Linked DNA regions of Homo sapiens: regions 2, 3 and 4 are each reported to be linked to region 1. The links are microRNA targets in miRTarBase. Many come from high-throughput screens and were not tested one by one. Region 1 holds a microRNA gene; each other region holds the end of a gene's coding sequence.
What was found. Region 1 holds the annotated microRNA hsa-miR-3613-5p (UGUUGUACUUUUUUUUUUGUUC, at 2,116-2,137, shown strand). A microRNA usually pairs through its seed, bases 2 to 8, with sites in the 3' UTR of a target mRNA and lowers its output. Matches are read on the target gene's strand: a 7mer-m8 pairs with bases 2 to 8, a 7mer-A1 pairs with bases 2 to 7 and ends in A, and an 8mer does both.

Region 1 (4,166 bases):
TCTCAACTCCTGTGTGATGTGTGAGAATTCCATAAACTACGAAACTATACAAACATAAATAAGGTTTAATTACATATGGCAAACTCTACACATTTAAGGTGTTATTTTGGAGCATCAGTGTATCAAGCAAGAAAAGGTTCTAAACTTGAACTGTGATTTCAAGGCAAGGCAAAACAAATATTACATAAGGTATCAGGTACAAAGCAGTGTCATGAAAATGAGCATATCTGAACAAAAGCTGTGACAGAATTAAGGCCAGATAACCTATCATAAATGTATAGAATGAACAGAACAGCCCGGTTTTAGGAAAGGACTTCCCAGGGAGGTTTAGTAAGCCAGCTGGGAGAAAGGAAAAAAAACGTATTTTTAGGGAGGGATAGGGACGCTCCCATTGTGCAAGAAGGAAGTATAGCCGGTTAACAGCTCCATCAAGTTCTACTAGAAGGAGTGCCTATGTAAATGAAATTCTGCTTTTAAAGTGCCTATTATATAAAGGTCTCTAGAAAACTCAAGCCCTGTTCTACAAGCCCTAGCAGCCTGACAATTCACTAAGCATAGGAGAAGGGAAAAAAAAGTAGGAAAAAAGTGTGGAAGCCCCTTTCTTCCTTTGTAATATGAATGTTTGGCTATATTTAAGATAAATACCACATAAATAATTGCTAAACGTGAATTCTGTTTTTCTAAGTTTTAACAAAATATGCAAAGAACAAAGACCACCAATGAAAGTGGATGGGAACATACGTATTCTACACACAGTTCCATTTTGGAAGGTTCTAGGGCCTATTGAAATTGGGTGTTTAAAAAAAAAAGATAACACAGGAAAATTATTGTAGTTTACCTCTGTCTCCTACAAGCTGATGTATTTGGCAGGGTTACTATTTCCCAGGGCAAAGCAGGTCTTTTTTTTCACGTTTTGACTAACGAACTAGAGGCTACTGCAAAGAAAGAAGAAAAAGAACAGTATTAACGCATTTATTTGCACAGCACCCCAATCTTGACCCTCAATTTTTTCAATCGCCCCCACAAATAAAGCCCGGCTGTTTAGACCTGGTGAACCGCCAGGAGCCTGGAGCTCTTTGTATTAAGCAGCTTCTCGGTTAGGGCGCCCTCCCCCGGCGCCATGCAACCAAACGCTGGCGGCGCGCTGTAACCTAAGGCCCACACCCGTCTTTTCTTTTCTAGGGGATGTGGAGACGCTGGTAGCGGGGCCAGGAAGGCTCCGGACGGAGCAGGTTTTCTGGACCACAGACACACTGCCCCGGCGCCCTCCGCAGGCCGCTCCTCCCCAGGCCCATGACAGTGCCCCGCTGGTTTCTGCCGCGCTGCCGGACTGGAGCTCAGACGGCCTTCGCCAGCCCCCCCAACCCACGCAGATCCCTGCTGACCTGGGCAACTCCCCACCCTCGCTGAAGGTTCGAGGACCACCCCGCTTTCCCGAGAGGAGCCGGGCGGCGGGTACTTATCTCCGACCTCCGGCTAGTGGGAAAGGCCGCGCGACCGCCCGTCCTCCAACTACAGGGACCGCACGGTACGCGCCAAGCACAGCCCCAAAATGGACTCGCGGCTCCGGCTAGCTCCGCCCCCTTCCCTCTCCCGCTTCCCCTTCCCCTCCCGTCCCTTCCCCCTCCCCTCCCGTCCCTTCCCCCTCCCCTCCCGTCCCTTCCCCCCTCCCCCTCCCTTTCCCCTCCCCCTCCCCCTCCCTTTCCCCTCCCCCTCCCCCTCCCTTCCCCGTCGCCCGCCTCCGCCTGCACCTCCGGCCCCGCCTCCCCGTCCCGCTTCGCCTGTGTCCCGCCTCCCCGGCCGCGCCTCGCCTTGGCGGAGGGAGCCGGGTGGTGAGACCGCGTTCCTTCCGGCGTCTCCAACCGCCGCCTGCTCCCGCCGTCCACCCGCGCGGGCCGCCTGGGACGGGGAGGGCCGGGCTGCGGGCTTTTCTCCCTTCCAGAGTCCTGCGCCCGCCCAAAGCCCCCCCGCAGAGGCTGGGCAGCGGCTCCGGGAAGTGGACGCCGTTTGCCCAGACGGTGGGCTCGACTGAAGCGGCGCGGTCCCGGGTGGGGCCGCCCGGGAAGAAAGTCTCCCAGTTAAGCTGCCGTGCAATTAAGATGGTTGGGTTTGGATTGTTGTACTTTTTTTTTTGTTCGTTGCATTTTTAGGAACAAAAAAAAAAGCCCAACCCTTCACACCACTTCATCCGCATCTCAAGACCAGAAGCCGACCCCAGCGGCTTGGGGAAATGGAGCCCCGCACCCCACAAGGGGGAGGGTGGGACGGGCACCTCCGCACTGCGCGGCCTGCGGAGTCACCGATTCGCGTTGGGAGCGCGCCAGGAGCGCCAGGGCTCTAGCCGGGGGCTCCGGGCAAGGCGCAACCAGAAAAGGGTTCAGTATCCCCCATCACCCCCACCCCCAACCGTACCCTCTTTCTTTGCGGGCTTTAGGCAGGACACCAGAGACCCAATTCTATTTAAAATTCTCTTTTAAGAAAAGGAACGCCTGTTTTTGCCTTTGGGGGAAAGGATGAACTTTCAAATTGGCTTTAAATTATCCACCACTAACAGTTACTCAGTCGATAACCTGACTATTCTGACGTCCACCTCCCGTTTGAGGACCTTGCCCAATAGCAAACGTACTAAGCACTTAACCAGTGAACGGTGTGAAGGATGCAAACATGGATGATGAAGGAATGGCTCCTCCAGAATTTACGATCTTGGGAGAAGTGAGGCGAGTATAGAATCTCAGAACACGCTGTAGGATTGAGTTCGATCCCAGTTGAGGAAGTTTGGGTTTGGGGAGGAAATAGGTTATTTTGGAGAAACGGTATTCAAAACCTACCATAAATAGCAGTACAGCCCGTTGACTAATAATGCTTAGCCCAACCCCCGTAAAAAGCCCCTGGCCACATCCGTCTCCTGAGATTCCCACTTCTCTGTGTGCATCTCCCTTCCTGCTATAAGAAACCTAACTTTGCCTTCGTAGAACACTTCTTTTAATTTCTGTCATTCAGTCTCATAACACTGTGTAAAAGAAATTATGATCTTCATCCTATATAGATGAGAAAACAGGTGAAGTGACTTTTCCAAGGTACAAAAGCAAGAGGCAGAGCTGAGGCTAAAGGCAGCTTCCAGATATGGGCTCTTTCTACAGCACCATAACTGTCAGTGACAAAACTGCACCCCAGTACCTTACTAAATTTAGTGTTTTTAGGCCAGGCACGGTGGCTCACGCCTGTAATCCCAGCACTTTGGGAGGTCGAGGCGGGCAGATCACCTGAGGTCAGGAGTTCCAGACCGGACTGACCAACATGGTGAAACCTGGTCTCTACTAAAAATACAAAAATTAGCCGGTCATGGTGCCGTATGCCTGTAGTCCCAGCTACTTGAGAGGCTGAGGCAGGAGAATAGCTTGAACCCGGGAGATGGAGGTTGCAGTGAGCCGAGATCCTACCACTGCACTCCAGCCTGGGCAACAGAGCAAGACTCCGTCTCAATAACTAAATTAATTAATTAATTTAGTGTTTCTAAAAAAACAAAGTGATCTGTAGAAACATCTCATTTATTTGTTGTCATTGTGTGTTGATTGATTTTGAGACAGGGTCTATCTCTGTCCCCCAGGCTGGAGTGCAGTAGCATGATCATGGCTCACTACAGCCTCAAGCCCCTGGGCCCAAGTTATCCTCCTCCCTTAGCCTCCCAAGTAGCTGGGACCACAGACATGCGCCACCACGCCTGGCTAATTTTATTTTTTGTAAAGATAGAGTCTCACTATGTTGCCCAGGCTGGTGTCAAACTCCTGGGCTCAAGTGTTCCTCAGGCCTCAGCCTCCCAAAGTGCTGGGATTACAGGCGTGAGCCACCACACCCAGCCATATGGAAACATTTCAGATATCCTAATATTAAAATGATATTTCACAAGACTGGACAGTTATTAACTCATGTGAAAGGAAAATCTTGGGGCCCCAAAATCACTAAGCTAAAGGAAAAAGTCAAGCTTCGGAGAACTGCTTAGGGCAAACCTGCCTCCCATTCTATTCAAAGTCATCCCTCTGCTCACTGAGATAAATGAATATCTGATTGCCTCCTTTGGAAAGGGTAACCAGAAACTCAAAAGAATGCAGTGATTTGCCTCTTATCTCCCTAAAACCTGGAAGCCCGCCCCCTGTTTTGAGTTGTCC
Region 2 (4,166 bases), not on the chromosome of region 1:
AGGTGTGAGCCACTGTGCCCAGTCAAAAATAAATTTTTTGAAAGTGAATCTTAAGTAGATGGTGACCTGAAGATGCGATAAGAGCAGAGTGGTTGTGGCTGACAGCCTGTGGTCCCGTGGGAATTAACCTTTTTCTTAATGTTATTAAATCTCAGATCCAAAAGGAAAGTCCTCGGCCGTAGAGATTCAGATGATGACCACTCCCGAAACCATTCTCCCTCCCCGCCCGTGACACCCACCGGCGCTGCCCCAAGCCTGGCCTCTCCAAAGCAAGTGGGGTCGATTCAGAGAAGCATCCGAAAGAGCAGCACCAGCAGTGACAACTTCAAAGCTCTGCTGCTGAAAAAGGGCAGTCGTTCAGACACCAGCGCCCGCATGTCTGCAGCAGAGATGCTCAAGAACACAGACCCTAGATTCCAGAGGTCGAGGTCAGAGCCTTCCCCAGATGCCCCCGAGAGCCCGTCAAGCTGCTCCCCAAGCAAGAACAGAAGGGCGCAGGAGGAGTGGGCCAAGAACGAAGGCTTGATGCCTCGGAGTCTGTCCTTTTCCGGCCCCAGGTACGGCCGCAGCCGAACGCCGCCTTCTGCCGCCAGCAGCAGGTACAGCATGCGGAACCGGATCCAGAGCAGCCCCATGACCGTCATCTCGGAGGGAGAAGGGGAAGCCGTGGAGCCTGTGGACAGCATAGCCCGCGGGGCTCTGGGCGCTGCGGAGGGATGTTCCCTGGACGGACTGGCGAGGGAGGAGATGGACGAGGGCGGCCTGCTCTGTGGGGAGGGGCCTGCCGCCTCCCTGCAGCCCCAGGCCCCCGGCCCTGTGGATGGGACAGCCAGTGCAGAGGGCAGAGAGCCCTCCCCACAGTGTGGCGGTTCTCTGAGCGAGGAGAGTTAGGGCCAAGAACGTAACTCTCCCAGGTGACACGGGGGGAGACGAGCAATGCAGCACTCTAGGAAGCCTGCTAGGCGCCCTTCCCTGGCTCACCCGGGGAGCCCACTCTGCTTCTGTGCTGTGGGCCCCGGGGTTGCCAGCCCTGCAGTGTGAGTGAACGGTTATTTAGGACTCACCTGGCACTTGCCCTGTGGCTTAAGAACAAGTAGAAGCTTAAACTTCTGAAAGTGCTTCCCGGGGAAGATTTTTTTTTTTTTTTTTTTTTTTTGCTAAATGCTGGGTGTGTATGTGTGCATTTTCCACACTTTTTAATTTTTAAAAAATACACATATACACAAACAACATGTACAGAAATAGAAGAAAGCAAGCCAGACTTAAGCTTGGTAGAGTAACGGAGTCCTCTGGTCTAGGCGGTAATTGCTTTCAGAGAATTACGTTTATAGAAATCAGCGAGTTTTGTAAGAAAGGAGAAGATGTTACTTCAAGAAAGAGGCAGTAGAGTTGCTGGTTCTTAATGCACAGAACACACAGATATATGCACACGTGTGCTGCTGAGGTGAGGCAGGTCTGGTGAGCACGGAGAGGCTGGGAAGGGGCTAAGTGACTAATTGGTTCAGGTACTTTTTTCTGGGGGAGGTAGACTTTGCTTCTTTTTTGTAAAAATGACAAACGTAGAAGTGGCAATGCTGTAACCTGGTGCCTGCTGCTGTGCAGCCACATACACACAATTGTAGCCTGATTTTTAGAAGTGTGGGTAATTTTTTAATGAATTTCCTCCTTGAGTAGCAGCTGAGGTCATTGACAACTGAAGTGATGGTGTGGACATAGAGAGAGGGGAAGGGTTGGAAAGGAGTAAGTGATACACTGCTGGAATTTGTTTCCTGCCTATGAAATAAAATTATTTTTCAGAATTAAATTTGAAAACTTGCACTACAGAACTATGGGTGGAGCTTTTCCTTTTACAACAGTTTTTTTTTTTTTTTTTTTTTAACCAGAGTTTAAACTTCCATTAGGCAATTTCCTGTCACTTGAAATGTCAACATTTGCTAACTTTTGGATATCCTTTTGGTTACACCAAAGAAAAAGTTATGGCTATTTTTTTTTCCTTGAACTGCCTACAGTATCATGTCCTAATTCAGAAAGATTTATCAAAATCTATTATATATTATCTTACTTTGAAGAAAATGCTGAATAGCTCTTGTTAGTCAAATAAACTGATAAAAATTGGTAGGGCCTGGCTATCAATTAGCCCTGGGAAATGAATTTTTAGATTAAAAAGGTTTTTTTGCATCATTTGGTTTGTGCATTTTTATATTTGTTTATAAATAATTGAGTTGCTAATTACTTCTAATCTTCTCCAATCAGATTTTCAACAATTTTAGACATGGGACACACGTGTGTGAAGTCTTTATTTTAATGTAATAATCTCATTACCCCCACCCTTACTCCCTTAACTTCCATGTACTTAGACTCCTTTATTTGTTAAATAAACTAGAGTATTGTCTTCTTCATTAGAAGGACCTAGGATGACAATGCGGAGAGTCTTGGTCTGAATCTAGTGCGACTACCACCTGCCAGCTTTTGGGGGGTATGGAAATACTATCTAAAAGTTGGACTGCATGGGTCAAATCATTATGAGACTTATAAACTAAAACTTTAGATACCCATATAGAAATGTCTTTGAGGCAAAAACAAACCTAAAGAATGAAGGCTCTTTCCCTTCTCTGAAAAAAACAAAACACTGCTCTTCACACAACCGGAAGTCAAGACCAGAGATTTGGAGCAATTGTCTACTAATTTGGCACAAAGATCGTTTCTTTAGAAAAGTGGCATTGGCTTTTGAATATGAAATCTTCTCATAGCTGCCTAAAAAAGACTAGAATGTATATGGATATCAGAAACCTTTAATAATACATAATTTATGCAAAGATAAGATAAAGCAACATAACACTAATTATAAAACTATTTTTAAATCCCCATTTTTAATGAAAAATATACATTTGTATTTAATTTCCTTTGAATAAAACAATTGTAAAGTAAATATTTGAAATATTTCTTTTTGTTTATACATGCATTTTTTTTGAATAATGAGATAGGTGTTCTTATACAGAATTGTTGAGTGTTTTGCTGGATACAAACAGAAAAGCAGTGAGACCAGAAGGTCTCTGGGGGAGGTGACAACCCAACAGAGGAGGTGGAACATCACAGACACTGGATGGCACCATCTACAAGGGCACGTGGAAAAACAAGTCCACATCGTGTCCTATGGACTTTGGAATAAAATACGAATAACCTATCGCCTGGCGGTTCAGATGACGTGGCATGTGGAGAGACGTGAGAACTTCTTACAGGCATGGATGAAATACAGGGAGAGAAGAATCGAGACTCATCCCTGAAACATGGCACCTTCCATGTGGCTACTCTACTCCTTGGGGCCCGCTTCTGTTATGGACCGCATCTTAAAAAGCTCCACAGGGGTAGATCTGATGGCTCTCATACCCTCATACTTTAAGTTCCAGATAATCACAGAAGCCCCAGCCCTAAATTATTTCCACTTTATTTTTACTATCAGTGGGGAGAGAAACAAATTACTGCTTGGTCTGTCAGTTGGAAACAACCTCAATGCGATCTGCTTTCTGCCATCCTACTATTTCTGAAGAATCTTGATTGAACTCTTGCTTTTCCTGTGGGGGTGACTGTATATTCCTTAGGAGAATCACAGTGAAAAGGAGACGTTTCTGTGTCTCCGTCTTTCTCCCCACCCACCACTGGCACCCTGCTCTGTGGTGGCATCTTAGGAGGAGAGGGGAAAGAGTGGCTTTCTTGGTTCTGCCGTAGTAGGGGTTCAGCCTGCATGCGATGCTGATTCCATCATCAAATGAGCACAGCAGCATAATTTGCTTTGGCAGATGTGAGGATGTTGTTGGGGGAATGGAGGGTCATTTGAATGAAACATGGACCTGATTGTTGCGCCACTTTCCTTAATAAGCCACTCGGTAACTGTAATACAGTTTCTCTCAGTTGCCTGCTCTGACCTACCTTCCACAGCGGCCAGCCTTTATTCACAGAACAAGAGGTAGAGCAATCTGTAGTCATTTGTTCAGCAATGGGGGAAAAAAAGTCCTAATAAATGCTTCTCATGTGCTAGGTAAAGACAAGGAGGCCCAAAGATAGAAAACGTGGTTGAGCTATCAGTGAGGGGCATGATCCTACTGCCAGTTTAGATTCTTCAAGAAGTAGACAGTTAGAATACCAAAGGATTTATTATTGGAGTAAGC
Region 3 (4,166 bases), not on the chromosome of region 1:
AGCATGAGAAGAAATGTTTTAAACCCATCTTCTCTTTTGGGTAGGACAGGGACCTAAACCTGTGGCCACTGCCTCCATCCTAGCTTCCTGGGCCTTACCTGAGCTGCTTGGGAGGGTGCACCTACCAAGGGCAGTCAGTCTGGTGCCCTTCCACCCTCCAACCAGCCTGATACTGGTCCCTCCCTCTCTCTCCAACCCAATACTGAGATGTGCGCACCTGAAAAGAAAGTACTTGAAAAATTCCTCTATTATCAGAGCAAACTGATGAAGCTTCTGAGGTATTAAACAATCCATCATAACATTTGTGACCAGTTAACTTTAATTTTCAAAATAAATCTGCAGTATTTTGCATGTTAGTAATACAGTGCTGGTATTGACAGGTAAAATCATCATCTGCTTACATAGAAACCTTCATTCAGGAGCACACCGTAGGAGGGGAACGGATACACAATAAAAAGCAAACGCAGGCCAAGCAGCGAGCCCTAGAGCGTAACAGGCTGGATGTCAGATTTAAGGATTATCTAATACAACTGTTTAGCTGCCAATCTGATAAAGGGGAAGCTCTCAACCAGGTTACAACCAGAAGGGAAAAACGTACTCTGCCTTTTCGTAGAGCAGTGGCTGTCGTGCCTTCAACACCTGGTTGAATCAGTTCATCAACATCGAAACTCAATTCCAGTTCCAAGACACAGAATTTCATCACACAACCTATTCGGTACCCCTTTTCAGTGGCCCACCCAAAACCCCCTCCTGCCATCGACTCTCTCCCTCCCAAAAGAAGACATGACGTGGCTTTATTATTGCAGACAAGCTTCTTAAGTGAATAAAGAATGCATACAAAATAGTATTTTAACTGAAGTCATACAATGAAGTCTCACTCCTGTTTATTATACAATGAATTGATAAAACAATTACTTCTAGTATATATCTTTTTTTTTTTAGAACTAATACTTTCAGGGTTCTGACAACCACATTCTAGCTTAGGGGTAGGGCCCACACCTGCCCCCACTGAGGACTGCTCCTTGGACCACTGTGGAGGAAGCCTGGGCTGTCTGAATTGTGAATTATGACTGCCAGCCCACCAGAGATAACAGATCCCAGCAGGCAGAGCCAGAACCCAGTTTTGGGTCTGCATGCCAGGAAATGTGAACTTCCTCCAAATGTGGCCACTGTGCCTCCCAATCCAGGCCTCAGCAAGGTCATTCTTGGGCTTTCCCTACACGAGTCCTTCCAGTAGTCCACACATAATGCTCTACATATTAAAAACAAACCATTTTTGTACTGTGGATAAGAACAGTTGTAACAAAGTCATAGCTACATATTTTTCTCTACATTTTGTTTATTGAGACAAACTAATTAAAAGGCACAAACATAGGGCATGTTTACATGGACATTATAACAAACATATACATTAAAAGTGTAGGAATGTGTTGCCTTCCTGCTAAACAGAAAGTTCCTAAGCTTTTATATATACAAAAGTTGTACAATTTAATGTCCTAAAGTACAAAAGATCATTTATAAAATTATTTTACACTAAGTACTATTTATTTTATTTTTTTACTATGTAGTTCAACCCCCTAGAACTGTTTTGTATAATGACACACAGATACCTGTCCCTGATGTAGGAAGTCTGTCTCAGATGCAAGGTATTTTGATGCTTGAACTGACACAGTAGGGTATAAATGGAAATCATCCAGTTTGATAGTCAGTCCTGCAAACATTCTGCAAGATTAACACAACTAATTTCCATTTCTCTTAACTGCAATGATTAAAAAATGAAAAAAACCAAAAACATATTGCAACTTAAAAAATCACAGCATCTTGGTTTAGTTAATTTTTTTTTTAACGCAATGCTTTAAAAACAATGCGTGGCATGATGGTGTAAAGAGTATCTGTTTCCCTAGCTTTTGGTTTCTACTTTATGTACAGAGATAAAATATCTTGCTAAGAAATAAAAAGCACATGTCTCAACGTGCATAATCATTGCTGGGTTTCTACAGGGAATGCAGACAGCTGTCTCCCTGAAAACACCACAAAGCTGATACAAGTGTTTTCTCAAAGAAAAAAAAAGTGATGTCCATATTTACAAAGTTGAACAAATCTGCGCAATACTTAAGAAACGGAAGGAGAAATTTAAAAAAAGATACACTCTGCATGTTCTGAAGGGGCATACACTACCTAGTTAGTGGTTAGAATAAAAACTGTATACAATTTAATATAAGACATAAACTCTAGTGAGCAACTAACACATCTGTCCCTGTTGTAATATCAACAGGCTCTGATTGGGAGAGAGAGGGGCATATCACATCCCAGTGCCTCCAGCGTCTTCCAATTTAAAGCAATATATTTGTACTGTTCCAAAGTACTCCTTGGCTCCTAAATAGGAATCCCACTGGACTCTGTTTATTAGGAGCTTGCCTGTCCACACACTTGACTTCTCCTCTGTCAGTTGAGGCTTTTCTTAGCAAAACACAATTTGTAGATTTTTTTTAAATTTTTTTTTTTTTTAAAAAGTCAACTACAATGCTATATTCCATCGGGATTAATATGCTGAGCAATATTTACATCTCCAAATATCAGGTCACAATCCCTATTATACGTTGAAGTTAGAATGATAAATTATCATATGCTTTGCATATCAGAGCTGGTATCACCTTTCCCATAGGGAATGCTGCCTGAAATTAACATATTCCCAAAGGTAAAATGCATATTCTCTGAAATGCATTTTATTATGACAATGCATGTATTTACTCATAAAAACAATAAACACAGACAATTCTACACTAGCTCTCAATCTGTGGATTTAAAATTTCAGGTTAAAATCAGCCATCCACCTTGTATAGGGAGAAGAGTTCTGCTAGTGTTTACAATAAAGTGATTCCTTGGGATTAGAAATAGTAATGCTGTTTTTTTATTTTGAAGTGGGTTCTACTTATGATTGGTTTTAATTCTGGCATTTCATCTTGCCAACTACTATCCTGTTTAAGCAATGTTGTCAGCTAAAAGGAATTTCTGATTAAACTAAAGTGGTCCAGTGATAAGTTACATACACACCCTACTTTGAATAATCCCAGCCAAATTGGAGAAAAATGCTACCACACTCTTATTAACTAATGTAATAAAATCTCCCAATTTCATGGTTTACTTTTTGCTTTAATCAACTAAAAGTTAAGTTGCTGGTAAATATTTACTTTTACCCATATTTTGATTTTATAATACTGTTTACCAAGGCGGTGATGTAGGCAAAGCTTGGGGCAAGAAAGGCATGCTCTCTACAGGTCTCATTGCTATATTGAGAGGGGCGGCTAATGTCATAGGTGTGGGTAGATTCATTGGAGATGTGATGGTGACAGGGTGTGCTATATTCACTGGGGCAGTGACGGGGGTGGGGAGGTTGACTGGGGTAGTGAGTGTTAAAGGAGAGGTCATGGATAATGGACTGGTTATAGTTACAGGATGCCCTATGTTCATTGGGCTGGTTATGTTAACTGCACTTGAAACATTTACTGGACTTCTCATGCTCATTGCAGCTGCCACTGTGACTGGGTTTGACATAGTCCCAGACGACACAGAGGATGTTATACTGAATGGAGTAGTGAGAGTCACAGGTGTCGTAGCAGCCGTGGAGGTTTGGCACAGGTTAGCAGCTTCTAAAATAAGAAGAAAAAGGGTCTTTAGATTCTCAAAACAGTGAGCAAAATTCACAAAGTTTCTGAATCAATTTCTTTTCATTAAAAATGTCAAACATTTAATAAATCAAATTCCAGTTTTCTATCAAGCGGTCAACAGAACAGAGGATCTTTCTGAGCACAAGCCTGGGGGCCAGGGATCCCAGTGTATGAATCACCTTCTGATGCTATACCTCCTGCAAGGACTTAAGCAACTTGTTTAGCCTTGCACTTTAGGTTTCAAGTTCAGATTTACTTACCTACCTCACAGTGATGCTGAGAGGATCAGTTAACTTCTGCAATGCAGGGCTAAGTGTTCTCACTACTACTTCATGCAGTTCCTCTGAGTTCTAAAAACTTTCTTGGGAAGAGCCAACCTCCAGCAGGCCAGGCTAAAGAGCTTGTTTACACAGAGCTGGGCCAATGGTTACACAATAACAGATAATCAGAAAAATCTTCTCGTAAGGCACACTGTAACTAGCAGAGAGAGGTGTGCAT
Region 4 (4,166 bases), not on the chromosome of region 1:
CAAAAAGCAATAGAATAAGGGTATTTTCTCCATATGCCCTCCCAACACCCCTGGGACAAGTTATAAAATACCCACTTGATCAGAGATTATTAAGCTGACCTAATTGGCTCTGAGGACTTCCACACTCACTGCAATCTTGGTGATTTTCCTGCAGAGCAACTGTTTGGCTGGCTGCAGCTTAAGTCTACTAGTAACTTGATTCCCTTTCCAAACTGTCAACACGGCGGTATCATCAGGCTCATTAAAATTGATGGCAGCACAATGCAACAGAGCTGGAGAAAACTGGAAGGTCATAGCATAGTGTACAACCACTTTGTGCTTCTGTCTCACCTTTCTCTGGCGATGGGGTAGGTAGTGTAGCCCAGATAGGAATGCCAGGAACAGGACGACTCAACTCTCCTGTATCTGTCCTGGAGTATGTACCAGGAGTCCTGGTGGTGGTGATACAGGAGCGGGTAGGGTGCAGTATCTTACACAAGGTGGTTTGTGCATTTCCACGCTGGCCACTATCATTCTTCAGGTGCTGGACTCCTGAAAGAGGAGTGAACTAAAGGTAAGAGCAGAGGTTGAAAACAGGGCGCCATGGACCGGGCACAGTGGCTCACACCTGTAATTCTGGCACTTTGGGAGGCCAAGGTGGGTGGATCACCTGAGGTCAGGAGAGTTCAAGACCAGCCTGACCAGTATGTTGAAACCTCGTCTCTACTAAAAATACAAAAATTAGCCAGGCGTGGTGGCGGGCGCCTGTAGTCCCAGCTACTCGGGAGGCTGAGACAGGAGAATTGCTTGAACCCAGGAGGCGGAGGTTGCAGTGAGCCAAGATTGTGCCACTACATGTCAGCCTGGGCGACAGCGAAGACTCCCATCTCAAAAAAAAAAAAAAAAGAAAAAAGAAAATAGCTTCAAAAAGATGGCATACCAATGTATCACACATGTAGGTGTGTATGTAGAACACACCTCCACCAACCTCGGAGCAGCTAGTCAGGACCAGTCATCTAGCCCATCATAGCTGCCACCCAGCTCAGACATTTTATAACTAAACTTACTGCAGAAGCTGGAAGCAAACCCTCTCAATGTTCTCCTTCAGATGGGAGACAACTCCAAAAATAGTCTGCTGTGTGACCTCATCACCAAACAGCTTGCTTCTCTGAGGACCATGTCAAAGGCATCTTCACTGGCCACATACAGGTGACATCAATATTTTACTATAATGCACAAAAAGGCTTTGACCTTCAAGGCCCCCTACAAGAGCCCAAATGACTTGTCCAGTATTATCATCTATTCATGTGTTGTCAAATCTACTTGTATCTAACTGTACTCAGCAGTTTCCTACCTTTAACCTCTGCTCACCAAGATACTCCCTTCTCTCTCTATTCCTATTTATAGACGCTATTCACACTTGCATGTGCAGCTGAAGTACTTTCTTTTCTAAGAAGCTTCCCTCCCTCCAGGTTGGGTGCCATCTCTCCAGCCTCTGAGCTACACTAAAACTTACCTAAACCTCTTGCTCCTAGGTCCTAGTAAATATTACTTGTGTTGATGTCTTTTCTTCCTGACTAGTTACTATGAGCACCAAGGGCTGGCTTGTCTTTTTAACCCAATTCCCTTCCCTTTTGCCCAGCCAATAAGCCTGGCATATCCTACAGGCTTGGTAGATACTGGGAAGTTCTGTAAACTTTAAAAAACAACTAAAAACAACAACAACAACAACAAACCGGGAAAAATAATCACTCAAAGTTACTGTGTTTGATATTTGACAAATAAGCAAAACCTTAAGGACACACTTAGGCTACAGAAGAAACCATTTTACAATGTATTGAAGGTTTGCCAAAATGGCCTTATGGTTGGGGAAAATGATGTGTAATACCTGTAAAATCAGAAATCAAATTTTCTTGGATTTTCTTTGCAAAAAAGAAACTCCATTTTAAAGTCTATGGGAGATTTTGATTTTAAAGTACAGTATTTGGGGGCTCCATAGAGACTGTGACTTGTTATAAATTCAAATTAGATTCCAATTTTACATATTGCATTTACATGCATCAAAAACCTCACTCATTCCAGCAGCTATAAGCTAAAATTTACTGAAACAATCCTTAAATCTTCCACTATAAAAAACTGTATTGATAATGCAGTCATACATCTATTTTCGCTAAACGGTTAATCACTGAATACAGACAGAATATCCTCCTTTCTCAAATCCCTTTAAGATCTGTAAGAATAGAGAAAATTTCCATCTTATGGAAAACCTGAGTTGACCTCAGGCAGTGCCTACCCACTGCTTGGTGAGGCTTTTCACATGTCATTCCCCCTTTTCACGCCTGTCTTGGCAACAAACCATACTGTGTTCACCCATCAGTCAAACCCTACATGCTTCAGACTAGTGGAAAGCCCATTTTTCTCTTCAGACCTTCCTGTCAGCAAGGGTCACAGAACATCAGTGCTACAAGTGACTTCAGAAGCCATTTGGTCACACCCCTTCAATTTTCCAGACTGGGTGGTGACCCAGAGTCAACACAAGGTCACACAGAAAATCAGTGGCAGAGCCAGAACTAGAATTCAGATCTCTTGGGATTCTGGTGAAGGCCTTTTGCTTTACACTATCTTCTTTCCCTTAATTCACATAATACTTGAACCTAACATTTTACTGGTTTTCAGGGCCCCAGAGTATTCCATTTTGAACGTTATTTTTTAAAGTATGCTTCATTTACTCCCAGTTATCAATGAGGATTTGATCTAAATGCTCAAAGATCCTACACACTTGTGCAATTCCCCTCAACAACTACTAATATAAAAATGCCAAATAAACCAGTTCTTTGGTGTTTTAACATGAGCTTACAATGAGAGTATAATTTAAAAATGTAAGCATACAACTAGGCTTTACCAAAGAGTAACTGTTTATTTCGCTTAAATTCTTAAAAATACTTTTTTGGCAGTTGTCACATAAAATGTCCTAATGTAAAAAAAATAATAATAATAATTAAAAAGCAAAGCATGAAAAAACAGACCCAAAATGTTAAGATTTTATTTACAAAGCTTTTTTGTTGTACAGAAAGTAAAAATGCTGTTACAATCTCAGTGTAACTGGTAGCCACAGACGGTTGACTCACCAATCACAGCTATCCACGCTACAGCAAGAATCTTACACAAAAACCTAACAACGCTTACAATTTTGTTGGGGTGAAGTCCACAAGCTTGGTGGTAGATTACCAAGAGGGACTACATGGAAGGAAGGCGGAATGTCACAGGAACTATTCTTTGGCTCTTTGGGTGGGTGGGTGTCCTGGGGTTTGTATCACAGCTACCTTTTTTTTTTTTTTAAACAGCTACAAAATCCATGAGCAGTCCAACCAATACTGAACAGTTCTGTTTCTGCAGGTCATCTGGGGTCTTAATCATCTTCTCCTTCATCATCTGTTTCTCTCTTCCTCTTTTCACCTTTCCCACCTTCTTCCTCCTCTGTACAGTAACAAAAATTGACTTTAGGACAGTGGAAAGGCATTTTGCTTAGATTATTGCCAATGGAGGCAACAACAACAAAGTTTTTGACAGTTAGGAGATAAAACAATGTAAACTTGATCAGATTAATATAGGTGACTAATAGCAAGTATAAGTGGTGACCACAGAACCAAGAAAAGCAAAATGCACAGCAGCACCTCAACTCACCCAGGAAAAGTTAATCCAGTTTCCTCGATTTTAAGGTGTTGTCTTCCAAATGTTTCTTTTTACAAATCTAGCAATTATTAAAGTGCTTATTATTAACCTGAGCTGGTCAGGCCCACTGGCTCATGCCTATAATCCCAGCACTTTGGGAGGCCAAGGCAGGCAGATCACCTGAGGTCAGGAGTTCCAGACCACCCTGGCCAACATGGTGAAACTCCGTCTCTACTAAAAATACAAAAATGAGCCAGGCATGGTGGCATGTACCTGTAATCCCAGCTACTCTGGATGATGAGGCATGAGAATTGCTTGAATCCGGAAGGCGGAGGTTGCAGTGAGCTGAGATTGTGCCACTGGACTCCAGCCTGGGTGATAAGAGCGAAACTGTCTCCAAAAAAACAAAACAAAACCCCTCGTGCTATCTAGCACGTCTTCAAGACATGCTTACTTTCAAGTGATCTCAGACAAGCTTAACCTCTTTAAGCCTTTTTCATCTGTAAAATGGGGAC

Region 2: miRTarBase lists NHSL1 as a target of hsa-miR-3613-5p. Seed matches in the 3' UTR shown: 7mer-A1 at 1,849-1,855.
Region 3: the mRNA of VEZF1 is a reported target of hsa-miR-3613-5p. Seed matches in the 3' UTR shown: 7mer-A1 at 2,259-2,265 and 7mer-m8 at 1,479-1,485.
Region 4: miRTarBase lists ANP32B as a target of hsa-miR-3613-5p. Seed matches in the 3' UTR shown: 8mer at 3,040-3,047.

Annotation. Positions count from the first base shown.
Region 1 is chr13:49,994,436-49,998,601 of GRCh38, reverse strand. MIR3613 (microRNA 3613) reads left to right here and starts at 2,101; the gene lies at 2,101-2,187. It overlaps TRIM13 (tripartite motif containing 13), which reads right to left and starts at 1,560. Exons shown (of 2, transcript NM_213590.3): 1 at 839-1,560. It overlaps DLEU2 (deleted in lymphocytic leukemia 2), which reads left to right. Exons shown (of 14, transcript NR_152566.1): 11 at 1,183-1,528. RefSeq lists silencers at 1,824-1,953, 2,544-2,593 and an enhancer at 2,134-2,263.
Region 2 is chr6:138,420,806-138,424,971 of GRCh38, reverse strand. It overlaps NHSL1 (NHS like 1), which reads left to right. Exons shown (of 8, transcript NM_001144060.2): 8 at 156-2,929. The coding sequence ends at 891. HEBP2 (heme binding protein 2) reads right to left here. Exons shown (of 4, transcript NM_014320.3): 4 at 2,775-4,166. Among named protein-coding and RNA genes, the nearest start is that of MIR3145, 12 kb to the left of the region's middle.
Region 3 is chr17:57,971,251-57,975,416 of GRCh38, forward strand. It overlaps VEZF1 (vascular endothelial zinc finger 1), which reads right to left. Exons shown (of 6, transcript NM_007146.3): 6 at 302-3,650. The coding sequence ends at 3,223. Among named protein-coding and RNA genes, the nearest start is that of VEZF1, 15 kb to the right of the region's middle.
Region 4 is chr9:98,014,654-98,018,819 of GRCh38, reverse strand. ANP32B (acidic nuclear phosphoprotein 32 family member B) reads right to left here. Exons shown (of 7, transcript NM_006401.3): 7 at 2,877-3,456. The coding sequence ends at 3,389. Among named protein-coding and RNA genes, the nearest start is that of ANP32B, 33 kb to the right of the region's middle.